Linked DNA regions of Homo sapiens. The protein of the gene in region 3 purifies or fractionates together with the protein of the main gene of each other region. This does not show direct contact. Each region holds a gene or a part of one and is shown on either strand. Other genes may lie near its edges. The genes, in order: KATNIP, LRRTM3, CEP78 and NAP1L4.

The links.
Region 1: the proteins of CEP78 (region 3) and KATNIP purify together in Homo sapiens (tandem affinity purification; one large-scale study listed by IntAct). This does not show direct contact.
Region 2: the proteins of CEP78 (region 3) and LRRTM3 purify together in Homo sapiens (co-immunoprecipitation; one large-scale study listed by IntAct). This does not show direct contact.
Region 4: the proteins of CEP78 (region 3) and NAP1L4 purify together in Homo sapiens (affinity purification with mass spectrometry; one large-scale study listed by BioGRID and IntAct). This does not show direct contact.

Annotation. Positions count from the first base shown.
Region 1 is NC_000016.10:27,732,546-27,740,138, forward strand, and holds part of KATNIP (katanin-interacting protein), read left to right. Parts: intron 1-2,949; exon of another isoform or gene 2,950-3,045; intron 3,046-7,495; coding exon 7,496-7,593. UniProt on the Homo sapiens protein: May influence the stability of microtubules (MT), possibly through interaction with the MT-severing katanin complex.
Region 2 is NC_000010.11:66,926,893-66,934,485, forward strand, and holds part of LRRTM3 (leucine-rich repeat transmembrane neuronal protein 3 precursor), read left to right. Parts: intron 1-28; coding exon 29-1,560; intron 1,561-7,593. UniProt on the Homo sapiens protein: Exhibits a limited synaptogenic activity in vitro, restricted to excitatory presynaptic differentiation. May play a role in the development and maintenance of the vertebrate nervous system.
Region 3 is NC_000009.12:78,238,507-78,246,099, forward strand, and holds part of CEP78 (centrosomal protein of 78 kDa), read left to right. Parts: intron 1-1,516; coding exon 1,517-1,689; intron 1,690-1,785; coding exon 1,786-1,858; intron 1,859-3,189; coding exon 3,190-3,293; intron 3,294-4,955; coding exon 4,956-5,130; intron 5,131-7,593. UniProt on the Homo sapiens protein: Centriole wall protein that localizes to mature centrioles and regulates centriole and cilia biogenesis. Involved in centrosome duplication: required for efficient PLK4 centrosomal localization and PLK4-induced overduplication of centrioles.
Region 4 is NC_000011.10:2,966,498-2,974,090, reverse strand, and holds part of NAP1L4 (nucleosome assembly protein 1-like 4), read left to right. Parts: intron 1-1,847; coding exon 1,848-1,989; intron 1,990-2,556; coding exon 2,557-2,643; intron 2,644-4,156; coding exon 4,157-4,288; intron 4,289-7,593. UniProt on the Homo sapiens protein: Acts as a histone chaperone in nucleosome assembly.

The DNA.
Region 1 (7,593 bases), on a different chromosome or scaffold from region 3:
AACCAGGTTGCAAGCCCAACCCCGAAACCTCAGAAGAAGACTCAAGTCAACCAGAGTCAGGGAGGAGGGGGAGACAGGGAGGGCCAGGGGCTCCCTGGAGGAGTCAGCCCTTGAGCCAGGTCCTAAAGTGTGTGTGGCAGCACTCTGGGTGACAGCACCTCACTCCCCCATAGCCCTCCATATCTCGATAGACCTACAGTTAGGATAAAAGCAGTGAGTCCGGGAGACAAACCCTAAACCCCTGGCCCAGAACCCCTGGCTCCTTCCCGTGCTGGAGCCAGCACTTCCGGGCAAAGAGCTAGGAAGGACAGCAACCCACGCTTTTGCTCTGCAGAGGTGCCAGTAAATGTTCCCAGCCAATGACACAACTCCCAGAGTGTGGGATGCCTGCAGTATGGGCTCCCTGGGCTGTGCCTGAAGTCCAGCCAGTGCACATCTGGGCCGACTCCAGTTGTGTCGCCATGCCAAGGCTCCATTTGCCTTAACGGACCCACCTTGGCATGTGGTTTTTGGGCCTAGCCAGTGCTTCATTCCAGATGTTTGTTCTCAGGTTGTATTGGCTGTGCCAAAGGCAGGTGCTCATCTCTGGGGAAAGTGGCTTAAGATGCTAAAGCCCACAGCTCTGCTTCACTGTTGCCACAGTGGAACCGTGCCGCCATGAATCTTTGTTGGGCAGTTGTGTGTTCATTGCAAGAGACCTGCCATTCTACACTGGGGCCAGGGATGAAAGTGGCCTTGCTGAGTTAATTAATCACTTAGATTGAAATAATATTAATATTGTATTAAAAATGCATTACAGTTTCAGCACAGTTGATTCTCACCAACTGTAAAGAAGGAAGATAAGGGCAAAATGTGGGCCAGGAAAGGTGTTCCCATTAACTACAAACCAGCCACAGAGTTTCAAACTGTCCTTTTCAAAATCCATTGCAAAGGGTGTTTGAGGCAGCATGAACAAAAGGCATAAAAATAACTCTAGTTAAAGAAGGAAAAAAAATATTCACACCAAGGAAACAAGAAGGACACACACACACACACACACACACACACACACACACACATATGCAGAGAGAGAGACAGGGTTCTAAAGGTTAAGGTTAAGACATTCGGCAGGAAGGAATTTCATGGTGCACTTCATGGAAGAAGACAGAAGAAGGGAGAAAGAGCCTGGGGTTAAAGCCCTGACGACTGGAGGGGGAGGAAGCAGGCTGGTTCTTGAGGAGAGAAAGGATTTTCCCCCTGGATCCTTTCGTAAAGATGTCCTTTATACAGAGCTGCACTGAGGGGGCGCAGAGGAATCCAGACTCGCAGAATCTTCCATCCTGCTTTCCTCATGGGGCAGATGTGACTCTCATACAGCCTCTAAGCACACCCTTGTGGTATAATGACACTTATGCGGTATATACGTAAATATGTAGAAAAATGTCTTGAAGAACTGGAACCCACACACATACGCACACCCACCACCCAGTGGAGGTGGAGGTGGGGGCTGGGGTGGGGTAGGAGACAGTTAGTCTATAAGGACTTATTTATTATTATTATTATTATTTTCTTTTTTGAGACAGAGTTTCCCTCTTTTGCCCAGGCTGGAGTACAGTGGCACAATCTCGGCTCACTGCCACCTCTGCCTTCTAGTTTCAAGTAATTCTCCCGCCTCAGCCTCTCCAGTAGCTGAGATTATAGGTGCCTGCCACCACGCCTGGCTAATTTTTGTATTTTTAATAGAGACAGCGTTTCTGGCACCTCTGCAGAGCGGTCTCAAATTCCTGACCTCGTGATCCACCTGCCTCAGCCTCCCAAAGTGTTGGGATTACAGGTGTGAGCCACTGCGCCTGGCCCATAGGGACTTATTTAAAAAAAAAAAAAAAAAAAAAGGCCAGGTGCAGTGGTTCATGCCTGTAATCCCAGCACTTTGGGAGGGCGAGGTGGACGGATCACCTGAGGTCAGGAGTTTGAGACCAGTCTGGCCAACATGGTGAAACCCCATCTCTACTAAAAATACAAAAAATAGCCGGGCGTAGTGGCGTGCCTGTAATCCCAGCTACTCGGGAGGCTGAGGCACGAGAATCGCTTGAACCTGGGAGGCAAAGATTGCAGTAAGCTGAGATCACACCACTGCACTCCAGCCTGGGTGACAGAGAGAGACGTCTCAAAAAATAAAAATAAAAATTTAAAAAAGGGTAGGGGCTCAGAGCTCCACCGGTACAGGTGCTCCTAACAGTGGCTAGGCTAGCATGGGCCAGGACTGTGGCTTTCTTGGAATCTAGCTTGACCCACAGAAAGATGGTGGTTAAGACCTTAGCATGCCAGCCATAGTGGCTTACCACATACCAGCTGTGTGACCTTGGGGAAGGCATGTGCCTCAGTTTCTCCATCCATAAGATGGGGCCCTAATGCTTCCCTTGCAGGATTGTTCTGAGGATGACATAGGACAAGGCAGTCTGTTATCCTTTAAACAGAATATCCAGAGAAGTGACTAATATTCCCTATGGGGACCCCACTCTGGTGATCCTTGGGCCACATCTGCCCATGAATGTGGCTTGTTTGGCCTGCAGAGTGCTGGAAACCTTTCAGAGCTCAGAGCTGCCAGGCAGGGTACGACCCTCCCACCTCCCTGTGACCCCTGCATACCACTGATTTCCACCTGAGCCCACTCCTCTCTTACAAGCCTGACCCCTGCCTCCGCCTGCTTCCCTCTCTCAGTTCCCTCTCCGCCAGACGTCTTGGTGGGAACAGGGCTGGAGGTCAGATGGGCTCTGGACTGGGGAAGGAAGATGGGTGGCCATGTTGTGGAAGCCGGCCACCCTATTAGGAAAGCTAGGATGCCCACCTTGTGACTGTGCTGGACTAGATGGTTTCCCCATCACCCACTACCTCTTTAAAGGAAGGTGTTTCTGTCTCACCAGATATCCCTGTGGCAGTAATTTTGCAGAACCAGTCATTGAAAACTGCCCATGCTGTCCTTCTCAAATAGCTGTTCCCCGGTGAATTCACAGCACGCACTTGCTCTGTGCCTCTGCTAAACAGAGAATCCATCCATATAAGCAGGTAAAAGAGTGCTTTGAGAATCGACTTTTCTGACAGTCGGCAAATGGTAGCCTGCCATCTGCAATTGGAGGATTGAAGCCGAGTTCCTGTGGCGTAACGCAGGCCGGACAGTTCTCCTTCTAAATTGCTGCGGAAACCTCTGTAACTCAGTGATCCTGAAATTTGTTAGCTCCTACTCACCTAGCTTTCAGGAAGGCTAAGAAGGGGTTAGTATAGGTGAACATCTCCAGGGTCTCAGATTCTGTCTCCCAAGAGCAGATCAGAAGCCAAGGCAACACGGGAAATAAACGATCTGGAGGTGAAACCCACAGGCCGCCGCTTTTCTGATCAGGTTCATTCTTAGAGCACTGTTGAGACAGCAGTGCTGTTCAGGAGAGAAAACCCATGTTTATTCATTTGCTATTCCAAAGTAATTTATTTATTTATTTTGAGACGGAGCTTCACTGTCGTCACCCAGGCTGGAGTACAATGGCACGATCTCAGCTCACTGCAACCTCCCCCTCCCAGGTTCAAGTGATTCTCCTGCCTCAGCCTCCCGAGTAGCTGGGATTACAGGCTCACGCCATCATGCCTGGCTAATTTTTGTATTTTTAGTAGAGACGGGGTTTCATCATGTTGGCCAGACTGGTCTCGAACTCCTGACCTCAGGTGATCCATCCACCTCGGCCTACCAAAGTGTTGGGATTACAAGCATGAGCCACTGCGCCTGGCCCAAAAATAATTGTTGGGTGGCTACAATGTGCCCTTGGACAAGACGGGCAGGGCTTCAGCTGTCTTGGAGCCTAACTTTGAGTGGGAAAAACAATAAATAAGTTAAAAGCTGATAAGCAAGACCATTCAGAGACTAAAAGGAAATAAAACAGGGCAATAAGATAAAGAGGGGACCGATGAGGTGGGGCTGCCCTAGAGGTGTGTTCACTGAAGGTCCTGAACAGAAGAAGGAGCAAGGCTGTGGGCATCTGCGGCAGAACACGCCAGGCAAGTGCACAGGCTCTAAGGCAGGAGGAACAGGCTGAGCCACATCAAGGAATCGAGGCAAGCGCCAGGAGCCGGAGTCAGAGAGGTCAGCAGGCACCCCTGAAGGGGAGTAGGATTTCTTGTCAGTGCCATAGGAAGTCACTGGGCAGCTTTAAGCAGGAGGCTCCCATGATCTGATTTCAGTTGTTAAAAAAAGACTCACTGCTGTGTGGAAAATGAAGTGAGTGCAGGGTTTGGGGGAGACAGCCCAGAGTGGAGGCAGAGAGACCAACTAGGAGGCGATGGTGGTGTCTCTGGGGGAGACCCTGGTGGCCCAGGCAGCAGCACACGCGGGCAAGGAGGTCAGCTCCAGGGCGTGTTCTGGAGAGAGAGCCGAGGGACGTGCCCACATACTGGATATGAGTGAGAAAGTGAGAGGGGACGAGGGGACGGCAAGCTTTTTAGCAACCGCTCGAATGATGGACCCATTTTTAAGATAGTTTAAGACTAAGTGTGGAGAAAGTGATTTCAGAATTCTGTTTCAGGCACACCAGGCACATTGACTCACACCTGTAATCCCAGCACTTTGGGAGGCCAAGGCAGGAGGATCCCTTGAGCCCAGGGGCTCAAGACCAGCCTGGACAACATAGTGAGACCCCGTCTCTACAAAAAAAAATTTATTTTAATTAGCTGGTCGTGGTGACGTGTACCTGTAGTCCCAGCTATCCAGGATGCTGAGATGGGAGGGTCACTTGAGCCCAGAAATTCAGGTTGCAGTGAACCCTGATCGAGCCACTGTAACGCCAGCCTGGGCAACAGAGCAAGACCTTGTCTCTTAAAAAAAAAAGAGAGCATTCTGTTTTGGGCATTTTATATTGGAATTCCTGTTAGATATCCAGGAAGAGAGGCCAAGCAGTCACTTGGGGCTTGGTGGAGAGGTCAGGGTTGGAGATGAAAATAACTGGGAGCCTGGGACCTGAATGAGACCACCTGGAGAGCAAGGGAAGAGCACTCGGGAGGCCTAGGACTGAGCCCTGGGCAGCCTAGTCGTTCAAAGTGCAGCCGAAGAAAAGGAAGCAACCCAGGAGTCGGGCAGGCTCAGCCAGCGAGGCAGGAGGAAAGCCAGGTGGGTGCAGAGCCACACAAGCCCCAGGGAGGAAAGTCATCGCAAAGGAGGGGAAGCTGCCGAGTACTGCCGAGCCGCCACACCCACCCACTCCTAGGAGAAATTCCTATTGCGTATGGCAGTCAGCTGGACCCTGTAATTTACTTTAGGAACCAGACACTTCTGAGAGTCATTAGTAATGACACCAGGATAACAGATATAAATCAGAATTGTCCCAGACAAACTAGGATGGCCCGTCACCCTAGTTACAGGTGCCCGGGCCAGGTGGGTTCCATGTGGAGGTGGAGGCAGAAGCCCAACGGGAGGAGGAACAAGGGGTAGTGGGAGGAGGAGCCCACGGGGACAGTGACACTCAGAGATTCACTGACGGGGTGACGGACAGATCATGCGGGGGGCCCTGCAATGGAATATTCCTTAGCAGTAGAAAGGAAAGGAACTATCAGTTCCCATAACACAGGTGAATCTCAGAGCAGTTATGGTGACTGAAAGAGCCGAGCAAAAAAGACTACATGCAACATGATTCCTTTATGTAAACATTCCAGAAAGGACGATCAGTATATAGGGAGGGACCATAAGTGGGTGGTTGCCTGGAGCCAGGGAAGGAGGAAGGGGAGACAGGGGTTACCAAGGGGCACGAGGAAACCTTAGGGTGATAGGTACGTTTGTTCTCTTGAGTGTGATGGCTTCATTGGCGTAGACACATGTTAAAACTGATCAAGCTGTACCCGTTAAATATGCACAGTTTATTGTATGGGGTGTGTATTCTATTCCCCGATAAAGCTGGAAAAAGAGTTTTGCTGTAAAGAGGATGACACAAGTGAAACAGTAGCAGGAGATGTGATTTTATCTTAAGCATGGAAGGAAGAGAGTTGAACCTGCGTGACATAGGGGCATTTAGGCTGGCAGTGAGAGAGGAGAGCGAGGTGGGGACCATTTGTGAAGGTTACTGTATGTCATGTGGAGAGCTTTGGAATTTATCCCATCATCGGCATGGTTCTGCACCCCGTCGTGTGAAGAAATCATCCGGAGAACTTGTTCTGAGTCCAGAAGTTACCTACAGGCTGCCTTGAGGCAGTGGTCCTCACACGGCATCCTCCTGGCTCCCTTCCAACTGCAGCTGCCGTGAACATGGGACAGTCCCCGCATGTGGACAGTGCCCTGCCTCAGGTGCTCGTGGGGTGCTCTGCCGTGGGAGCACACTCAGCTCGTGCATGTGTTGGGGCATCAGTGCCCTGAGGGCAGCCTTCAACAAGCAGTGGATAAATGTCCCAGTCTTGGAGAGACATTTGCGACATGCATTTAAGCAGAAGACTCCCATGATCTGATTTCAGTTAAAAAAAAAAAAACTCACTGCTGCATAGAAAATGAAGTGTGAGTGCAGGGATTTGGAGGAGACAACGCAGAGTGGAAGCAGAGAGACCAATTAGGAGGCGGCAGTGGTGTCTCTGGTAGAGACCCTGGTGGCCTGGGCAAGGAAGGCAGCAGCACATTCCAGGTAAAGAGGTCAGACCCAGGAAGTGTTCTGGAGAGAGAGGCGAGGGACAGCTGGCGGATTGGATGGGCAAGTGAGAAAGAGAGGGATCAAGGGGGCCACGAGGTTTTTGGCCACTGCTTCAATGATGGAGCCATTTTTAAGATAGGTGAAGACTAGGGTTGGGGAAAGTGAGATCTTGGAGTGCCGCAGAGGGCCCCCGTGGGAAGGAGCACCAGTTGGCCACAGCAGTGACCAGCTCAAAAAAACTGGGTTTTTCCTTTTTCCTGCCCTATCTTGCTTTCCCCATTTCCTCTTGGAATCACCTGCCAAATACTCGACTTGCACCCGAGTCCTTGTCTCAGCCTCTGCTTTTACGGTCTCCCAATTATGATGCCCACGGAGGCCAGGAAAGCTGTTTTATAAGCACTCCAGGCTTTTCGACGCAGATGGTCTCAGGAACTGGACTTTAAAGAACACTGCTATAGGCTGTGAAAAAACATGAAGGATTTCACACAGGGGAATGACTGGACAGATTTGCTCTGGTAGGAAATGAACTCTGGTGGCAATGTGAAGTCCAAGTTAAAGTAGCAAGAGACAGGAAGCAGGGAGACCCATTAGTAGGCTATTACGAATGTCCCGACAGGAGGTAATGATGACGAAGGCAGCGATTGAGGCCGTCTCTTTGTGAAAGTCCTTTGATTTATAGAGTATGTAGCGGTTCCCACAGAAATGAGACCAAGCCTAGTTTCACACCCCCAGCACTGTGGTTTTCAAAAGCTTGCATTTCTAGCATTTCACATTTTCTTTTCTTTTTTTGGTATCTTCGACTTCCAAAATTTCATACATCAGTCTGATGCTATGCATCTTCACTTTGTTAAATCTTATGGTTTCAGGATCTTGACATTGGTGCCAAGAACGTGAAGCTTTACGTCAACAGAAACCTCATCTTCAATGGCAAGTTAGACAAAGGAGATAGGGAGGCCCCAGCTGA
Region 2 (7,593 bases), on a different chromosome or scaffold from region 3:
AACTTTTCTAAGTTGTTTTTATTTCCAGGTTTCAATGTAATTAGGCTACTGAGCGGATCAGCTGTAGCACTGGTTATAGCCCCCACTGTCTTACTGACAATGCTTTCTTCTGCCGAACGAGGATGCCCTAAGGGCTGTAGGTGTGAAGGCAAAATGGTATATTGTGAATCTCAGAAATTACAGGAGATACCCTCAAGTATATCTGCTGGTTGCTTAGGTTTGTCCCTTCGCTATAACAGCCTTCAAAAACTTAAGTATAATCAATTTAAAGGGCTCAACCAGCTCACCTGGCTATACCTTGACCATAACCATATCAGCAATATTGACGAAAATGCTTTTAATGGAATACGCAGACTCAAAGAGCTGATTCTTAGTTCCAATAGAATCTCCTATTTTCTTAACAATACCTTCAGACCTGTGACAAATTTACGGAACTTGGATCTGTCCTATAATCAGCTGCATTCTCTGGGATCTGAACAGTTTCGGGGCTTGCGGAAGCTGCTGAGTTTACATTTACGGTCTAACTCCCTGAGAACCATCCCTGTGCGAATATTCCAAGACTGCCGCAACCTGGAACTTTTGGACCTGGGATATAACCGGATCCGAAGTTTAGCCAGGAATGTCTTTGCTGGCATGATCAGACTCAAAGAACTTCACCTGGAGCACAATCAATTTTCCAAGCTCAACCTGGCCCTTTTTCCAAGGTTGGTCAGCCTTCAGAACCTTTACTTGCAGTGGAATAAAATCAGTGTCATAGGACAGACCATGTCCTGGACCTGGAGCTCCTTACAAAGGCTTGATTTATCAGGCAATGAGATCGAAGCTTTCAGTGGACCCAGTGTTTTCCAGTGTGTCCCGAATCTGCAGCGCCTCAACCTGGATTCCAACAAGCTCACATTTATTGGTCAAGAGATTTTGGATTCTTGGATATCCCTCAATGACATCAGTCTTGCTGGGAATATATGGGAATGCAGCAGAAATATTTGCTCCCTTGTAAACTGGCTGAAAAGTTTTAAAGGTCTAAGGGAGAATACAATTATCTGTGCCAGTCCCAAAGAGCTGCAAGGAGTAAATGTGATCGATGCAGTGAAGAACTACAGCATCTGTGGCAAAAGTACTACAGAGAGGTTTGATCTGGCCAGGGCTCTCCCAAAGCCGACGTTTAAGCCCAAGCTCCCCAGGCCGAAGCATGAGAGCAAACCCCCTTTGCCCCCGACGGTGGGAGCCACAGAGCCCGGCCCAGAGACCGATGCTGACGCCGAGCACATCTCTTTCCATAAAATCATCGCGGGCAGCGTGGCGCTTTTCCTGTCCGTGCTCGTCATCCTGCTGGTTATCTACGTGTCATGGAAGCGGTACCCTGCGAGCATGAAGCAGCTGCAGCAGCGCTCCCTCATGCGAAGGCACAGGAAAAAGAAAAGACAGTCCCTAAAGCAAATGACTCCCAGCACCCAGGAATTTTATGTAGATTATAAACCCACCAACACGGAGACCAGCGAGATGCTGCTGAATGGGACGGGACCCTGCACCTATAACAAATCGGGCTCCAGGGAGTGTGAGGTATGAACCATTGTGATAAAAAGAGCTCTTAAAAGCTGGGAAATAAGTGGTGCTTTATTGAACTCTGGTGACTATCAAGGGAACGCGATGCCCCCCCTCCCCTTCCCTCTCCCTCTCACTTTGCTGGCAAGATCCTTCCTTGTCCGTTTTAGTGCATTCATAATACTGGTCATTTTCCTCTCATACATAATCAACCCATTGAAATTTAAATACCACAATCAATGTGAAGCTTGAACTCCGGTTTAATATAATACCTATTGTATAAGACCCTTTACTGATTCCATTAATGTCGCATTTGTTTTAAGATAAAACTTCTTTCATAAGTAATCCCCCACATTCGCTGTTAGCCTCCTGGTGGGACCAAATCTACAGTTATAGAAGGTTTGCACCTCACTGGCAAATCAAGGAAAGAGGTGAATGATTCCAGGTGCTCGGAGCTTGAGCTGATTCTTGGAGATGACTCAGTTATGGGAACATTTTACAGACAGGCAGAGCCTTTAAACCAATGCCTGACTTAGAAAAGAAAATTGCAGGAAACTATCAAAAGATGGTGCTAGGTTAAAGCAGCACCCTGAGCAGTTTCCAGAGGTGTCTGAATTACAGTAAGGCAAGCACAGGGACAAAGTGATGAAGGGTTAAAATACTGCAAGCAGACAACTGCAAAATGTGAGGAGATGACAAAAATGTAAAGTTTTCGACTCAGCCTTGTCTCTGAAACCCATCTCTGTAAAATCAGACTAGAGGTTTCACTGCCAATTTCTTCTAGCCTGTATGTTTCATAAATAAATAAATGAAACAGCATTGAGAAGCCAGATTTCTCCACCACACCTCACATTAGTTAGGGAGTTTTCAGATAAGGTTCGCGAATGGGAAAGCAGCTTGCTACAGGCATGTGGTTGAGAGCTTACCAGAATTTCTCTTTCCAGTTTTTTCGAAGACCCTAATGTAGTTAGTAGAATCCTTAGCTCTGTCCTGTTCTGTTCAGAATTTGTCAGGCTGCCCTGTTGTGTTCCATTACATGTCCTGCACACACCAGTCCCCTAATGACAGACACTTCATTCAGATGTGTAAAGAGAACACATTCCAAGACGTGCCTTCCACCCACAGCCTCATTGAAAAGGACGACTTTGATAACACCTTAATAAATGTATAAAACGAATCTTAGAGGAAAAAAGACCAACACTATGACAGTTCTCTGTTGCTTTTCTATTGCTGACATTACAATGTCCCTGCGTTCATCTGTATTGTGAACTCATCCATCAGTACAGTTCTGTACAGACCCTGTTGGCAATCTGCAAGCTGCATGCATGTTTTTATGTCATTGGTGAAAGTTTATTGACTGCAGCACGAATATCATAGCTTCCATATTTGAGTAACTTGAACCACAGTCAATTAAGGTTTTTAGAAAGATATATTTAGTCTGTATTCTCCTTCATCCTCCAAAATGAACAGTTCTATTATAGAAGCAAATATCAGGAACTGCAACATTGAGGCTGTTTCATTTAATTTGGCTTGCCAACCCCTACATCTTTAACCATGTCCCTCTTCTCTGAAAACAGAATCACTGCAGCAACAAAGAAAAAGTGAATGGCTATTTTTACTAATTTTTTTTTATTGTTTGGGGGTTTTTCATATGCTGAGAGGAAAAATCTAGGCAAGTCACCATAAAATAAAATTTTAAGGATGCCAGATCATTAAAATCATACTTTTATAAGCAATAAAGAAAAAGAAATAGTTAAAGTGGATTTCTCAAGGTACTTTGATATTGATTAAATCTTACAATAGATGCCACTTCAGAAAAACATCTTAGTTACAATGTTTACCCATGAATAATTGTTGAATATACATGTATTCATGACAAAAAGTCACATATTTCCAATGGATTAATAATGCAGATACTTCCTCACAGCTTACTGGATGACTGAGCTTATTGTGATTTTTTTACTGAAGTTGTAACTTTACATTTTTCATAAAGCATCAGTAAATACATATTCCATCTTAAAAAGAAATTTTCTTTGGCTAGCCTCATTTTTATCTGTACTAAAGATGTTTGTATTAATGAAATGCAGTCTTAAAGTGAAGAACCCCATTTCTATTCTTTTTCACTTAACCTTCTGCCTTACTTGTGATGGATACCAAATATATTTAGGCAAGGAATACTTATATTTTTGAATTATTGCAAATTCTCAATGCCATGGTGCTACTAGTATATATAAAATATGCTTGCTGTATTGAAAAGCATTCCTAAAATTCAAAGCTACTTGGAATATAAAATATGATATAACACTAAATGAATCACCAATATTTTGAAAGCTGTCACTTTTTAATGCCTAACTTTACTAATAAACATAATAATAGATAAGAACGAAAATAAAATCCCTTAGGTGGTAAAACTCATTTTGATTTGGGACATGAAATTATGGGAAAAAAGTTCTTTCTTTCTCCTCACTCTTTGAGAATGAATCTTCTGTAATTCTCAGTATCTTCTGAGCACAGATATATAATTCTTGTAGATTTAATAACTAGTTTACCACTGTAAATTTTAAAACGCCAACTGCCAGTCTCCTGCTCAAAAGTTGTTGCCTCACCTCCATCCCATGGTACTTTCTGGACTACATATCATAAATCTATTTGTATAAGTATTTCAAGTTCATGCAGATTAGAGAAATGTGATTGATATTTATTTTTCTAGTACGTATTTACATAAAATATTGGACTTCCCTCAAAGGTGACAACAGTTAAAAAAAAAAAAAAAAAAAGCCTGACCTGTTGAACTATACAACAGAACACAGAATACTTTGCTTTACCAAAACAGAGAAGAAATGGGATTTAGTCTCTAAACTTCATGTGAGTTTTTTTCCATTTTTATTAACCCCAGTACACATAGTGCTACCACAGCATGTAGTTAAATAGTCCCAGTGCCACAGTCTTGTAAGCAATACTTATGCAAGATATATTGCATTGAAATGAGTTTGTATTTTCCAAGGACGTTGACATTACATCTTTTCAAAGAATTTAAACAATTTTTTACTTGATTTGGTGAGTGAACTACCTAAGTAGACAGGCAGTAAATTGTCTTTCTATGGAGCAGCAGTGACCTCTAGTGTCTGGTTAGACTAACCACAGCTATTCACACATTTTAGCTTTTTATCCTGAATCCTTATGTAAACGTGGTTTACAACATGTTTTTTGACTAGTAAATCAGATTTGAATTTTATTTAATTCATTTCCTTGGGAAATATAATTATAATGTAATTTTTGAATGTTATACTTTTCATTTTGACTTTTATAGTAATGCTGGAACAGAGGCCATAGAATTGGTACTGAAGGCTAGAAATAAGTGTCCAAGATGAAAAGCGAGTAATAACGCAATAAGAATAGATAAGAAATATTTTAGAGTGCTTATACTCATCGATGCTGGCTAAGCATTTTGATATTTTTATTAAAGGGGTTAATATTTTTCATCAGCAAGATACATGTAATTTAGGTAGGAAAAACAAATTTTAATATTATATCAAAAGAGTCAGCATCAGTCATTTACTGGTCAGGGATATGTCAAAGGTGTCAAAGGAGGGGGGCCTCCCCTTCCGGCTTTAGAACTCTCCAGTTTGCTGATTGTGCCAGTGACCTGTGCTTTGCCTCAGCGCTTTCTCCCTCCCTCCCCCTTTTCAGCCAGCTGAACACTGGTTCTATTAGGCTCTCTGACAATGATGTTACAGTCTAAGAGGTGATGATTCATGGATAATGAAATTATGCTCTCCTTCTGGGGAAGGATAATGCAGAGTCAGATTCATGGATTTGGCAAGAGGTTTTAGGATGCTGTAGGTGCATGAAATATCTCTTCTTCCCTTGACATTTACCAAAATGAGAACTCAAATCGTTTATTTAAAGTGTGGATTAGACTGCATCAGAAACAAGCATCAGGTCATGAAGCCTGAGATAAAGTGAGTTCCAGACATGGCAAGTAAGAATCGAGCCATGAGAAATAAAAAATTCAGAATCTGTGTTGCTTCATCTATTCCTTTTTGCTCTGGATTCTCATTAGAATCCAGATCTGTAGCTAACCCACGGAGTTTTGCTATTGTTGTATTCTCCTAGCTACCTACACTAAAAATCAGAGGCAGTTGGGGGAAACAATGAGCACAACAGAATATATAGGTAAATTTGAATGACACAAGTTTTAAGAGAAATAAAATGGATGGATGTTAAATAGTTTGTATCAAATAGCTCTAATTAAAAATGAATTAAAGAAATAATAATAATACATAGGTGAAAGTCACTGCTTTCCTAATCATAATAGCCTACAGAATTGGACCCAAATTCTTTTAGCCTCCAAAAGTTGGTGATGATTTTGGATACTTAATACTACCAATAAAATCTAAATAACAATAATTTATGATTCTTTTGCATTTGAGGGAAATATCACAGCCAGGCATGGTAGAATACGGGCCTTAGAAATTAAGACCTAAATTCAAGTTCCTTTGACACTTGCTAATCAAGTCATCACAGGTACATTTCCTGGCTTTTCTGAATTTGAAGTTTCTCATATGTAACACAGATGTGTACTATTGACTGCTCATGGTAATTGGGAGGACGAAATGTGAAAAGTACTTTGTAAACTCTAAAATGGCAACTACCTCTTCTTTTCAAAAAGCCCTTAGTGAGATACTGAGTGGGGTTTGTTGTTCTATGTTTGGCATGAGCCAAAAAGAAATCAGTAACCTCCATGTTACAGAACCCCAAGCCCATTTTACATCATTAGAAGTCTAGAACATCGTCTTTGACTTTCTGTTTTCACATAGGCACAGCTTCTTCCACCTCATGTTATCTAAGTCTATGATTTTTATACTGATTATCACAATGTACAACAGACATAAAGACACCGACCAGCGAACACTAAAACAAATAATTATCAAACACATTGAAAATTCTACTTGTATTTCAGATCAGGCAACTATAGCAAGGGCTTTCAATCAGGACGTTTACCTGTCCACTCCCTTTCTAGTATCATTGTGTTCAATCCTTGTTGACTTTACACTGGATCAATATAATGTTTATATGGCAACATGACATCATTATTGAGCAAAAAGTAATTGCATATAACATGTTACTGTAGGATTAGCACGCATTCCAGGTATCAGTCACATGATATCTGCTCTGATGTTTCTCCCCTGGCCACTCCAGTGGAAGACTGTGCCCAAGATCTCCTCTTAGTATAGAAATTACTATTGACTTTATCAATTATAATTATTGAAAAATCACTGGATAAAAAGGGGTATAAATGTACAGGGACTTCCTTTTATATGTCATTGCTTATGCAAAATTACATCATTAATTCATCAAAGAATGACAAAAGGCTTCCTCCGCTGGATGTAGCTGCTCTTACCAATATGAAGTAGCAGGTGTATTTTCAAAATGTTTGTCATTTAAGAAGACACAGACTGTTCCTCTTTGACAGCTGAGTTCCTATGGCATATCTAAAGATCAGAGAGAGGATGATGGTTTTTCAGGTGGGGAAGCAGTTGTGAGTTTTCTGACATTTTAACTTCATAGGGTCATGAATGGACGCTCTTGAGTTAGGGATCCTGAACACGTGAGGAAAATTCCAGGAACACAGAGAGAACAGGAATATCTGGGACATGATATAAGACCAAGCAAGTACAATGTATTTTACAATTATACTTTCTAACAACAGAACTTCTATAAGCAATAATAATCCATTTTATTGAAAAAAAAGAAAAACAGCTTCTATCTTATCCTTTCCAGCAAATGTTGTAATGATAATTAATAACTTTATTAACAATTCTCCATGTTTTCTTTTTATTTTTAAGGGCTCTCACTTCTCCCAATCAGGATTCTCATTTATCCTTTCTCTCACTCTTAAATTGTTCTCCTTATTTGAAAGAGTCTGTAATTCCTATATCACCAAAAAATGTCTTCCTTTATAAACCAACACAATTCAGTCATTTGGCTCAAAAGAGCAGCATTATCTCCAAAAGAAAAGTTACACACTTGCATTAAATATTAGGACAT
Region 3 (7,593 bases):
AACATGTTTATAAGCTGAGAGAAAGAGGGAGGGTGTGCGATCTGGGAGAGGAAATGATTATTGATGTATTTAAAAACAACCTGACCACTTGTCGTGTGCCCGGCCCTTTTCTAGGCTCTGGGGTTAGCACCATCTCTTCTGCAAGGACAGTTCAACACATCTGCTTCTGAAAATAAGTCAGATTATTCTCTACATCTCATTCAGGTGCAGGAACTGTTCTGTACCTCTGAATGGACTTTAGTTAACCAAAATAATATCAGGAACCAGGCCAGGTGCGGTGGCTCACACTGGTAATCCTAACACTTTGGGAGGCCAGGAGTTTGTGACTGGCCTGGGCAACATAGTGAGACTCCTGTCTCTACAAAAAGTAAAAAATATTAGCTGGGCTTGGTGGATCTCTTGAGCCCGGGAGGTTGAGGCTGCAGTGAGCCATGATTTTGCCACTGTACTCCAGCCTGGGTGACAGAGCAAGACCCTGTCCATGACCCTCCCCCTACAAAAAATAAAAAAACCAGGAACCAAAATAAATTAAAGATGGGAGGGACCTCAGAGTCAAGGCTAGCCTACTAGATCTTGCCTAATATTTTGCACTGAATGTAAGAAAAATGTATTACAGACCATTCTCGTCAGATATTCTTCACTGAACCTTCTTTATCTCTTGCATCTAGTGGGTCTAGGTTGTAGATTTTAACCTCCTACATATTGCTTGTCCATCCTTAATTACATTTTGCCTGGACTATTGCAGACGCTCCTAGCTAGTTTTGCTGCCGTTGAGCTTGGTTTTTCTCAGTTCATCTGCCTACTTTGGTTCAAGTGATCTTTCAAAAAGGAAAAGACATGCTTAAAGTGGCATGCCCACGCAGGACCAGTGTGTATTGGTTGCTTGTGTTCTGCACAGAGGCACTGAAATCTCAGCTGTGTTCTGTTAAGCCTCCTGGGGTTAGTTGGTCTTGAGGAAGGGGAGCTTTTTCTCATTTCCTTTATCTCTTTGATACTCCAACAGTGAGGCACATTTTTCTAACCTGCTAGGGGTATCCTTAATGTGTCAGTGGTAGCCCTGATCCTCATCACCTGTGAGGTAAAAGTGAACTCTCCTAGGCTTGCTTCTCCCTGCCTCTTTGTAAATTTCTGACTCTTCCGGCTACGGCTCTGGGCTTTAGTCGGATCCACCTGCAGTTTTCCAGTGCCCGGCAGGTGTCAGGCTTAGATGCCTTTGCTCTCGCTGCTCCCTCTGGTTAATGCATCACCCACTCTCACCCCATGTTGTCATTCTCATCTTTCTAGATTCAGCTTCAGGATTATCTTGAAGCCATCCTTTCAGTGCAACTTCTTTGCTTCCATAAGAACCTCTATGTACATAGTTTGGTATATCCCATGTGGCTTGAGTTTACATGTGTCTGTGCTTAAGAGGACTTTAAAGGACATGGCTCATTTCTATGTCTTAGCACAGAGCAGATGTTTTTGAATGATACATTGTATGATTGAAGTCACTAACTTTCTTTTATCTTTGTTTTAGGTTCTGACATGAATAAATTTTGCAGAAGTCGTGTTCCTGCGATAAGATACAAAGATGTGACCTTCCAGTTGTGTAAAGCTCTTAAAGGCTGTTTAAGTATATCAAGTGTGCTAAAGAACCTGGAGCTAAATGGACTAATTCTGAGAGAGAGGGATTTAACTATTCTAGCAAAGGTAAGCTTTGTCTCATTTGGCTTGTAGACATTTGATAGTTGCTTTTAGAGGAAAAAAAACCTCAATAACATTTTTAACTTTTCCCCCTCATTAAAGGGATTGAATAAATCGGCTTCTTTGGTGCACCTGTCTCTTGCAAATTGTCCAATTGGAGATGGAGGTTTAGAAAGTGAGTTTAAATCTCATTTAACTCTTGTCCTATCAGGCTGGTTTCATGTTTCCCTACATGCCATGTTAATTCCTGTCTGTACCTTTTTTCTTACTACTGCCTCATATGCTTGTTCAAACCTTGGTCCAGTCTCAAGTCTACCATGAAAGCTTGGCATGCTGAATGTAATCTGAACTAACTTTACTTAAGTTTGTGTTAAACCACAGACCACACAAATATATACCATCTGGTATTCTCTGTTTTTTGTGTTTGTTCATCTTTTAGAGTTTTTCTTCAAGAAATATTTATGGGAAGGAAATAGCAAAATGTAAAGAGGCCGGGCGTGGTGGCTCACGCCTGTGATCCCAGCAATTTGGGAGGCCGACGTGGGCGGATCATGAGGTCAGGAGATTGAGACTGTCCTGGCTAACATGGTGAAACCCCATCTCTACTAAAAAAATACAAAAAAACTCACCAGGCATGGTGGCGGGTGCCTATAGTCCCAGCCACTCAGGAGGCTGAGGCAGGAGAATGGTGTGAACCTGGGAGGCAGAGGTTGCAGTGAGCCAAGATCACACCACTGCACTCTAGCCTGGGCGATAGAGCAAGACTCCGTCTCAAAAAAAAAAAAATCATCATTACTTTAAATAATTAAAACATATATACAATCAATTTTAATGCACTGTGGTATGTTCCAAAATAGGAAATATAAGCAAAGTGCTGTATAGGAGCATATAAAAGGCTGACAGACTTGGGGGGAAAGGGTTGGGATCATGGAAATAGTCACAGAAGGTGACTGTTCGTTGGGATCCTGAAGTCTTGTGTTCGTTGTGTGAAATAGTGGTCTGGAGGGGTAAGGAAACCTGCATTTCAATTTGAGGGAGCAGAGAGTTAAAAGGCCTCTGTCTTCTATTGTTCTAGTACATTAGGTGCTCTAGTATAACACCTAATAAAATTCTGGGTTTATAGTTGACACTGAATTGTTGGTTAATAACAGATTGAGGTCTGCTCTTGGAAATGAAAATAGGAAGAGTTTTATTTTTTTTATGTTTTTCTTTCAGATGTCTCAAAAAGTATATAGAACTTTACTGTGGTCTGGAGTAAGGTTGCAATATTCAGTCTATTCAATTTTGGCATCTAAATAGAATTGAACTATTGCAATAAACTGGAGTAACTCTTTGTTACTGACTTATTTTAGAATGTACCAATCAGTTGCTTAGGTAGATTGTAAATAGTGATTTTAAGAATACAACTATAAAATAGAAAAGATATAAGAAGAGCAAATAAATCAAGACTGACTAGGTTGTATATGCTCTTCATCTTATTGTATGTGGTTTTTTTTTCCATTTTAGTTATTTGTCAAGGTATAAAGAGCTCTATCACTCTTAAGACAGTCAACTTCACAGGATGTAATCTGACATGGCAGGGAGCAGATCACATGGCCAAGATCTTAAAGGTAACTTTATGTTCCAACTTTCATGAAAATGTGTTATATGATTGCCACACGTTAATATTTTGATACAAGACAGCAGTTATTTTTGTCTTTTGATACATATGGGCATTGCAGTTTTAGTTTTGTTTAAAGAATGTGACCAATTTTCAGCCTGGGGTTCTACCATTTATTAAAGGTAGTATGCTTAATCTTAGAAATAGAAGACCTAAAATATAATAATTAGATTTTTCTGTAAATACAGTTTGTAAAACAGTAATTTTAAAGGTGCCTTAACAACTTTATAGTGGTTATTACTACTGTATTTAGGATAAAATTACATAATAATGTGACATGAAGCCTTTTTAGTAATTTGATGGTGTAGATCGGGGTAGTCAAACTATGGCCTGTGGACCAAATCTAGCCTATCACCTATTTTTGTAAATAAAGTTTTGAAACATAGTCATGCCCATTTGTTTACATATTAACTATTGCTACACCCTACACTAGGAGAGTTGAGTAGTTGCAAAAGAAACTATATGACCCACAAAGCTGAAAATGTTTATTTTGGGGCCTTTACAGCGTAAGCCCACTCTCCGTGGGATAGATAATGGTTACTCATGTGGATTCTGAAGCCAGATGGCCTAGGCTAAAACCCGAGCTCTCTCCCATTTAATAACTTGTGACCATGGGCAAATTAGTTAACCGCTCTGTTCCTCAGTTTTCTTATCCATAAAATGTGTATAATAAGAAAACCTACTGTGTCTGTCATTGTTAGGATTTAATGAACTAATGTGTATAAAATAGTGCCTGGCTATCTAAGTGTTTGCTGTTATTTCCTCTTATTGCTTTTATACAGTTATTATGAATAGCAAATGACACTGACAGTTTTCATTTGACGGAGTCATAGGAGCTTTGAATCTTTTGTTTCAGAATGTAATGAGATTTTTTTTTCTCTTAAAATCAGTGTTTCCTGTTACCGAAATTTACTTTATGGATAAAGAGAAGTGATTATGTCTGTAAGATAATACCTGTGGTTAAAACTCAAACCACCAATTTCCGAAGGCATATCAACCTTGCTTTGTATATTCTAGGCCTCTAAATTTGGTGTGCATACCCTAAGAAATATGTGAGATCCCTTGGGTTAGGAGAAGAAAATATTAACCTCTATATTTTTGTATCATTTAAAAAATACCTATTGTTTCTGTTTGATTTGTAATATACATAAAATATGTATATAGAAATTCCTGTATATAGTTTATTAATAAATAACTTACATGTTAAATGTTTACTTGTGGGATGTCCAGTCAAGTGTTTAGAGACCACTGGAGGACAGAATGATATGATTTAGAGGCTCAGCAATGATAGAATTTAGAACCAGTACCTTCACTTGGCATATAAAGAAAATAAAATTCTTAGAAGTTAACTAAGTTGTCAGTTTACATAAAGCAATCAGTAACAGGTCATTAGTGGTTAGGGTCACATAGCTAGTCAGTGACAGACTAGTATCTGGGTCACTGGACTCCTTACTCAAAATCTACTATTTAATCAGTCTGTCAGATTAACCCACCTGGCATATGTACCTGGTGTGTGTGTAAAGCTCTGATGTAATCAGCTGTACTTAGTTCCTTTTAGTGTTCCTATCTCTTTATCCAAGTGTATTAATTTCATCTTATTAAATCTTTGAAGTATCAGACCATGAGAAGGCATGAAGAAACCTGGGCTGAGAGTCTTCGCTATAGGAGACCTGATCTTGACTGTATGGCTGGCTTAAGACGTATCACACTGAATTGCAACACACTTATTGGTGACCTAGGTGCATGTGCTTTTGCAGACTCTCTCAGTGAGGATTTATGGCTGAGAGGTAAGTTAAATGAACTTGTAAGGTGGAAAATATTGAATTTTTTGATATTAAATATGCTTAACTCTTGGCACAGTAATGTTGTCCGAAGGTTTTTTAAAAAGCCTCTTTTTTCTAATAGGTTTTATTTTGTTTTTAAGCCTTTATAAAAGTTATATATATTCTTTATAGAAAATACCAAGTAACAAAAAAAAAAAAAGTACATATAATCTCAATGCCTAGAGATAAACTGTTCATTTTGGTGTATACACTTTCAGTATTGTTTTTTCCTGCAGATACATTTGTGTGCTTAGAGTTACAAGAACAGAACTATAGTGCACTTACCATTTTGTAACCCTGCTTTTTTTATTTAATGATGTATCATGTAGTACTCTATTATATTGAGGCATAATAGTTTAATTCCCTACTATTTGATATTTAGGCAGTTTGTGCTTTTCCCCTGTTATAAACAACTCTGTAGTAAACTCCTTATGTATACATCTCTGTGTCCATTGAAGTTACTTTTTTTTTTTTTTTTTTTTTTTGAGACAGGGTCTTTCTCTGTTGCCCAGGCTGGAGTGCAATGGTGTAATCATACCGCGCTGTAGCCTTAAACTCCTGGCTCAAGTATCCTCCCACTATACCCTCCGAGTAGCTGGCACTACAGGTGCACACCACCATGCCAGGCTAATTTTTGTGGAGACAGGGTCTTGCTGTGTTGCCCAGGCTAGTTTCAAACTCCTGGGCCCAAACAGTTCTCTTGCCTTGGCCTCCCAAAGTGCTGGGATTCCAGGCATGAGCCACTGTGCCCAGCCTGAAGTTACTCCTGTAGGATAAATTACTAAAGTTGAGTAACTCAGTATAATGTATTTCTTAAAGACTTTTGATGCATGTCACCAAATTGCCTTTCAGAAATGCTGTGCCATATTATAGTCTCATAAATGCTGGATTGTGTCTATTTTAAAACCTTAAACTTTACAAAAATGAGAACTCCCCTGCTTTTTCTTTTTTGATGCAAATGGGATTGGTCTCTGAATTTTACAGCTTTTTTCACTCAGTCTAGCATATCTTAAATCAGTAAGTTTACATTTACCATGTCATTTTTAGTGACTCTTCAGGGTTCCATTATGTTAATATGCAATAGTACACTTGGCTTATCCGTTCCTATTAGATATATAAGCTATTTCCAGTTTTTCATTGTTATAAACAGTACTTTGATACGTGTTGTTGCCCGTGTCTCTTATAATTTCCTTCTGGTAAATTCTTAGAAGGAGAGTTGCTGTGTTAACAGAGTCTGCACATTTTAAAGGTTTTTTTAAAATGTGACCTTCGCCAATCTGATAGAAGCATAATCACATTTAATTGTTTTAGTTTATATTCATTTGATTTACTAGTGAGATTTACTGGCTATTTTTATTAATTTGGCTAGGTGGATAATTACATCCTATGCTCATTCTTCTGCAGCAAGAGTTTGTAAAGGTTTTACCATATTCTATCAGATCCATATATCTGACTTATTTCTGTGTGTCTTGTGGTGTCTTAGTCAGTTAGGGCTTCATAGAATATTCTATATTATATATAGTATATATTATATAACTCCATTATAGAAGCATATAACAGAATTATATTCTGGGTGGCTTAAAGAGAAGACATTCATTTCTCACAGTTCTGGAGTCCGAGAAGCCCAAGATCCAGATGCCAGTAGATAGGTGTCAGGTGAGGGCATTCTCCCTAGCTTATGGAAGGCTTTTATATCCTTAAATGGTGGCGAGAGAGAACTCTAGTCTCTTTTTTTTCTTGTAAGGACACTAATCCCATGATGGCTCCACTCTCAAGACCTCAACTAAACCTAATTACCTCTCAAAGGCCCCAATTCCTAATACTACTACCCTGTTGTGGATTAGGGTTTCAATATACATTTTTGGGGAATACAGACATGTAGTCCATAAAATGAGATTCTGAAAGACTTCAGTTATTTTAATGTAATGGTATACACGTGCTTTTGCTCTGATGTAATCTTTTTTTATGCCTGTACTTTTGTGATAATCCTTTTGAGTTGAAATGAGTAGATTGTTCAGCCTCAGTATTACTAGTATTCATGAGCATTTGTTTAGTTCTTTGACCTTTTACTTGAGAGAGAGTTCTTGACCATTATTTTTTCATGATAGGTTTTTAGTATATAATCTCTATAATCTCTATTCACACATTCTTTGGATTCATTATTTCTATCTCCTTAGAGTTCTTTCTTTGTCATTTTTATTCTAAAACTAACAGTTTACATTTTTGTATTTTCTTTTCACTTTTTTAATGTAATTTTTTGAGAGTCACTTGGAATTTGAATTTGAATTTGATGATGAATCTAGTGCAATTTCTGAGCTCCACCCAGTTTTTGCCTGTGATGTTTACACTGCCACTAGCATCCTTGTTAATTATGAACAAATATTCATTCTGTGATGTTTTATGTAGAGTTATTTTTCAACTCTGTAA
Region 4 (7,593 bases), on a different chromosome or scaffold from region 3:
AACTAATTTAAAATTGTATAATTAGCCAGGCATGGTAGCTCACACCTGTAATCCTAGCACTTTGGGAGGCCGAGGCAGGCAGATTGCTTGAGCTCAGGAGTTCGAGACCAGCCTGGGCAACATGGTCAAACCCCTACTCTACAGGATGCAAAAAAATTAGCTGGGCATGGTGATGTGCCCCTGTAGTCCAACTATTCAGGATGCTGAGGTGGGAGTATCATTTGAGCCCAGAAAGTTGAGGCTACAGTGAGCCGAGATCGCACCAGTGCACTGCAGCCTGGGCAACAGAGTGAGATCCTGTCACAATAAATGAATGAATGAATGACCAGTGCAGAAAAGGGGTAAAAATGGCAGTGGGAGTCTACCATTTTGTTAAATTCTTTCTGCTTTTCCCTTTTTTTCATCTACTACTAGCAGTAGTTCTAGAATGTTAAGCATTATTTGAGAGTCTTTGCTTAAACTAAGGACCTTTAGCTTGAGGTAGCTGTGGTTGTATTTCACCCAGGAGAGTGGTCCTTTGGGATGCAAGGCAGTTGTTCTAATACCTCCCAGACCAGTGATATGTGTGTGTGACTTGCCTACTGCTCTGTGCTGTCTGTTGTTGGAGGGTAAGTCAAGTGCTTAGACTTGAAGACTCTGATTGTGTGAATGAGTATTCAAGATGCAGGACCCAGGGCCCTGCCCCAGGTAGATTATTTGGGTCTATGATGAGGCCAGGAATCTGCTGTTCAGTCCACATGATTGTGACCAGGGGCTTCGTTTTGAACAAATAGTTTTGATGGGTTAAACAAGGATTTTTCTTCTGATTTATAAAAGTTATACATAACAACTATTTTTTAAAACATAGAACAGAATTGAAAGGCAAACTCATAGTTGACCTGACTCTCCAGGACAAAGTTGTGTTGCCTGTGGTCTGTGTTTCTCAGATTTTTTCCTCCAGTGTGTTAACAAGTGTGGATTCCCACGTGGCACTAAATATTCCTGGACAGTGTGATTATGAATAGGCCATATTTGAATGCTGTTGCACTTGCATTGTCCAGTTTTTCACTTGTACAGATCTATCGACGGACACTCCAGCATAAATACTTGATTAGGATAAATTTTTTTTTTTCCTTTTGGTAAGATAGGGTCTTGCTCTGTTTCCCAGGCTGGAGTGCAGTAGCGCAATCATAGCTCCCTGCTGCCTTGACCTCACAGACTCAAGTGATCCTCCCACCTCAGCCTCCTGAGTAGCTGGGACTACAGGCGCACACCATCATGCCTTGCTAATTTTTTAAAATTTTTTTGTAGAGAGAGGTCTTGCTGTATTGCTCAGGCTGGTCTTGGAGTCCTGCCCTCAAGCAATCCTACCTTGGCCTCCCAGAGTGGTGGGATTACAGGCATGAGCCACTGCGCCCAGCCTTAAGGATAAATTCTTAGAAATAGAATTACTGGGTCCAAAGAACATTTTCAATATTTCTGCCCTTCAGAAAGATGAGTCAGTTAGAGGGCTTCTTGGCCCTTAGCCTCGTAAAACCTGGGTGTTTTGTTTTGGTTTTTAATTGCCAATTTGGTAAGGAAAAGCTGAGTGTTCTTAAATGTTTGCATTCTTTTGGATATTTTATGAAATTGAATCTTTCTTCATGTTTGACAATTTGTGTTTTTTCTTTTGTGAATTATTTTTTCTGCTTCCTCCTGTATCCTTTTTTTCCTGTTGGGGTATTGTCCTTTTCTTAATTTTTAAGAGGTCTTGTTCATAGTAAGGATGTTGATTCCATGTTAACCTAAATTTATTTTAATAAAATTGAAAAGCATGCTGCTTTATTTTGCAGGCATGAGGATGTTGTATTTCTTACTCCCTTTTTTAGTTTACCTAAAGCAGTAAAAAGAAGAATTAATGCATTGAAACAACTTCAGGTGAGATGTGCTCACATAGAAGCCAAGTTCTATGAAGAGGTACATGACTTGGAAAGAAAGTATGCAGCGCTATACCAGCCTCTCTTTGACAAGGTAGGGAGCTCTGTTAATTTAATATACAGATAGTTTTCAGCTTACGAAGGTGTTAGGTTCCGATAAACCCATTATAAGTTGACAACATCTAGGGTAAGAACGCATCTAACCTGCCAAACATAGCTTAGTCTAGACTACCTTAAACAAGCTCAGAACGCTAACATTAGCCTGCAGTCAGGCAAAATCATCTTCCACAAAGCCTATTTTATAATAAAGTGCTGAGTATCTCGCGTAATGTATTGAACCCTACACAGAGAGAGGAACACAGTGTGGCTGTATTGGTGCCCAAAGTGTGATGGCTTCTGCACCATCAGGAAGTTGAAAATCTTTAGCTGAACCATTGGAAATCGGGGACTGTCTTTATTTTACATCTTTAGGTGAAACATCCAGGTTTACCCAGGGAATCATTTAATATTTTTCTTTGAACCCTAAAATTTAGAATCTTAAAATAAGTTATAAAAATATCCAGTTTTCAAAGTCTTTTAGTAGACATTATTTATAAATTTAACTCTTGAGTTCCTAAGTAAGCTAATAACATAATTCTAATAAGGTCTCATTTTTATGTAGAGAAGAGAATTTATCACCGGCGATGTTGAACCAACAGATGCGGAATCGGAATGGCACAGTGAAAATGAAGAGGAAGAGAAATTGGCTGTAAGTCTTTAGAAACATGTGACTCATGTTCTGTTTTAATACTGTTAAAAATAAGCATTTTTTAATGATTTTTAATGACTAGTAAACTTATGTGCTTCTAACAGTAGGTGCTGCTGCATCATTAGGTTGGGTTTAGATTCCTTTCTGATATGGATCTAGCATCTGACACAGTACTGTCAGTTAATAGGAGTAAGATGTAGTGCCACCTCAGTTATCTGTGGACAGGAGCATATTGAAATAAGGGATCAGACCAACAAAGATTAAAACATCAGAGAAAGCAAAGATGAAGAAGAGATGCCCCTGTGTTCTCAGTCACTGGAAGATTGGGGGAGTTGTGAGGGGAGTGCCTTCCTGCTCAGTGGCATGGACTAGCTTGCCCCCTGAGAGGTGCTCCGCCAGTGGATTGGTTGCAGATGGTGGTTGTGGTGTGGCCATCAGTCACCTGCTCACAGCCTTTTTCTAGTGACTGGTCCCATTCCAGTGCTGTGAAAACTCCCAGTGTACCATGGATTAACTTTGTCAGCCTGATTTTATGTTTGGGAGACAAGTAACTTTTATCCTATAACTAACTTTTTGCAGTTTTTTTTTTGGGGGGGGGGTGGTATATGATGATTTTGGTAGCCATATGTGTTTTTGATGCTTTAAAAATATATAGAACCTGGCCTAATTGAAGCCATGGCTGTGGATTAATACAGTTGTGAATCAGTTTCTAACAGCTCAAGGGAAATCTGCCTTTGCTGATTTAAAAGGCCTTTCATTTCAAGATCATTTCATCATAACAATCCCGTTTGGCAAGGCATTCAGAATTTCCCATAGTTGCATCTGGTGTTGCGTTTCACCTCCCTTGGTCTACCTTTTCCCTGGGGCCTGACTCCCCTTCCTTTTGCCATGTGGCCTTTCTGGTCACTTTCTGATGCTTGCGTGGTGTCTGAGCTGGCATTTATAGCCACTTCCTTACAAGCTGGATAAGTTGCTGAGCACTTTCTTGCTGCAGATACTGCTGCGGCAATTTTTTTTTTTTTTATTTCAACTTAGCACCCCACAAATTTTAACAAGAGGTCAGATTATTAGTCCAAGTGAACTTCTTTATCCTTGCACTGGACTTTTTTTGCCCAGTGCTAGATGTTCTGCATATTTGCATTGCATCTCCTTAAGGTTGATGTACAGTCTTTGCATCTGCATTTGTGATGATGATTGTCTCAGGATGGCACCTCACAGAGCTAGCACTGGATGGCCTTTCCCAGCGTCGGTGGCACTTTGTCATCTCTTTAGTTTCTTCGCCTTTGATGTGAAATGGTACGGAATTCCGTGTGGATGTAATGACTTGAATGCTTTTTCCTCAGAAGCATCTGAAAAGTGTCGCGTGGCCCAGTGAGTGGTTTGGAGGTGCAGACTTAGAAAGCAAGGTGTTTGATGGGAGATAGTAGAGGATTCGGCAACGATATTCTACGTGAAGCCGCTGCATTGTTTGTAAACTTTTATTTTCGTTACCTATGTTGCATCTTTTTTTTAGGGAGACATGAAAAGTAAAGTAGTCGTCACAGAAAAAGCAGCGGCAACGGCTGAAGAGCCAGATCCCAAAGGAATTCCAGAGTTCTGGTTTACCATCTTCAGAAATGTGGACATGCTGAGTGAATTAGTCCAGGTAAGCACACTTCTGTCTTGTAGAGAGATTATGTGCTAGTCTTCTAACATTACTTATCTATGGCATTTTTTAAGCACTACACTGGGCATTGAAAGATTGTTCATAGTGGGCGGAAGGGCACTTTCTCTGACCAGGACCTCAGATGAGCAGTCCTGATCTCACAGTGAATGGTTTATTCACAGTGGGGCTTCCATGCTGTCTTTTGCAGTTCTTGGTGGAAAGCTGGGCGCTTCAGCCTGATCCAAAACTTTCAAATCAGTTCCTTTTACCTCTTGTAAAGCTCTGTTGTCTTGCCTGTGGGAAAGCCTATGAATAGATTCCAGAGCCCATCTCTGTCTTCCTGTGGTGTGAGTGTGCAGGAAAGGGTGAGGGCAGGAGACCAGAGCAGAATGAATTTTGAAGGGATGAGCTGTGTGTTTGTTTGTGTGTGTGTGTGTACACACACATCTCAGTGAATTTTTGAACAAGTTGCTAATATTTTCTGATCATTTCTCTTGAAAAAGTGTCTATTTTTTTTAAAAAAAGAGGCCAGGCATGGTGGCTCATGTCTGTAGTCCCAGCACTTTGGGAGGTCAAGGTAGGCAGATCGTTTGAGACCAGCCTGGGCAGCATCGCGAAATCCCATCTCTACAAAAAATAGAAAAGTTAGCTGGGCGTTGTGGTGTGCGCCTGTGGTCCCAGGTACTTGGGAGGCTGAGGCAGGAGGATCACCTGAGCCGAGGAGGTTGAGGCTGTGGTGAGCTGTGATCACGGTGCTGCACTCCATCCTGGTGGGTGACGAGACCCTGTCTCCAAAAAAAAAAAAAAAAAAAAACAACACAACAACAAAACCCAACCACCATTTCTGATTTTGTCTTGCCTTGACATTTCACTTTCTGTAGTGAAATGGTGAACAAATTAAAAGGTAACAAATTTGGTTTTCCCTGAAATGAGTTATAATAGAAGTTTCTAGAACAGAGAAACAAATCTTGCCTTAAGTCTCACTGACTGACTTGCCGTCAGTTTTTATTGCTCCAGCGTCCCCAGAAACAGCACGTCTGCATTCAGACTTGCTCAGGACAGCTGCAGGCTCTGCTTGTGTGGGCAGAGTGCTTCTCCCATCACAGAGCATAGGCACTGTGCGTTGCAAACTGCTACATTGTAATTTGCACAGGATTTTACAGCTACGGTTTTTAATGGTTTTCACAAATGTATCACATTGCTGCCTCTGCTACCTCCCTTGTTTAATGCTTGTCCTGTGTCCTAAGCCAAAACTTGAGAAAAGATGGAAAGAATGATGTATTTCTTATTCTCCTTCCAGACCAGAAAGCATCTAAAATAGAACAGCCTTGGTTTTTCCTGATCTGAGCTTCCTTTTCATATGAAAAGGTGGAATTTAAGAAGACTAGACCATACTTTTAAAAGAATGCCATGCACCAGAATTTCATTGGAAAAATTAAGTAATGTCTACCAGAGCCGTAGTCTCACCCTGTGTATTACAATCACCTGAGCAGCTTTGAAAACTAAATAGCAAAAACTAAATGCCTCATCTGTCACCATGGCACTGAGAGTTTTGAGTTGGTTTTAGGAACTCTAATGTGCACCCTGAGAGTTGAAAATCTCCATGGCAGGGAGCAGGTGGAAAGACTAGCTCTTAGTTCGTTCTTCTCAGACTTCGGGGGGCATGGGGAGTGGCCATGGCAGTGCGGATTCTGGTTCTGTGGGGCTGTCTGGCTCATGGGCCCTGGGGTGATTCTTGCACTGCAGGGTTGGAGCATCTTCACGTGGGATTGGGGGTGCAGTGATAACAGGGTTTGGGAGCTAGAGTTAGGTGACTTGAGTGAGTTTTGGTGTCCCCTTCTGTGCGTGTGGCCACCTGGTTATGGCATTGGGGTCACTGGCCATGGATAGTGCTGCCTTGGGTTTTGAGAGCACAGTGAGGCATTTGGCCACATTTTAAATGGGGTGTCCCTTCTCATTCTCCCAGCACCTCTGTAGTAGTGTCAGTGCTTCAGCATTTCAGCCATGAAGTGTCTTTTGTTGCTTTTTGTTTTAACAGCTTTAAAAAGATATGCAGGGGTTGATAGAGTACTCATTTAATATGCAGAGAATGAGGAAATGTTATTTGTACTGTTTGTAACCTCATAGCAGGTAATGGTAGCATATTCTATTTTGATTTTTTTTTTTAACAATATTTTCTTTTTTTTTTTTTTTTAACGGAGTCTCGCTCTGTCGCCCAGGCTGGAGTGCAGTGGCGTGATCTTGGCTCACTGTAAGCTCCACCTCCTGGGTTCACGCCATTCTCCTGCCTCAGCCTCCCGAGTAGCTGGGACTACAGGCATCCGCCACCACGCCTGGCTAATTTTTTTATTTTTAGTAGAGACGGGGTTTCACTGTGTTAGCCAGGATGGTCTCGATCTGCTGACCTCATCATCCGCCTGCCTTGGCCTCCCAAAGTGCTGGGATTACAGGCGTGAGCCACCGTGCCCGGCCAACAGTTGTTTTTTAATGTCTGGTTTTGAAGTCTGCCATTTCTGAGAGAAGCCCTTTCATTTTTAAGGGACATGGTCTTGCTATGATGCCCAGCCTAGAGGTCAGTGGCTTTTCATAGGCACAGTCAGGACACTGCTGTCTCAGTCTCCTGGCCTCAAGGGGTCCTCTCGAGTAGCTGGGACTGTAGATATGCGCCACTATGCCCAGCTCATTTTGGTCAAATATTAAATTCCAAAGGCGGATTAACTCTGAGTCCCTTTGTTCTAAATTTGGGGATAGTTGAAATATATTTCTGCAAGGAGAGTGGAAAATTTGAGATGGTGGCTTTACGATCTGAGTGCGATGCCTCCAGTGTTGTGCCTTTGCTTCCTGAGTCTGAGCGTCTGCCAGTGTGGGGCATTACCTTAATATTTGCCCTGGACATTTAAAGTTTTGACCCACAGGGTACATGGCTGCTTGAGGAAATTAGAACATAATGGTTATTTTATGAAGTTTGGGAAAACATGAGTGGGCACTGCGTCTTTGAGTGGGATGAGTTTGAAGTCCCAGTGCCATCTCTGGAAAGCATGCTGGTGGAAGTGCTCATCTTGGTGATCTAGAGCCAGCGCATGCTTCTGTGGGTGGCACGCGCAGCATTGGAGACTGAACATCGCATGCAGGTGTGGCCCATTTCACAACTGCCTTTGGGTTACTTTTTGTCTAGATACTTGCAGGTATCTTTTTGTTGCTGTTTTTGTTTTGTTTTATGTCAGAAGAGTTGAAAATTAGGACTCAACGGAAAATCAGGCACAGAAAGGGGGGAAATACCTCACGTTCACACTCATGTGGGAGCT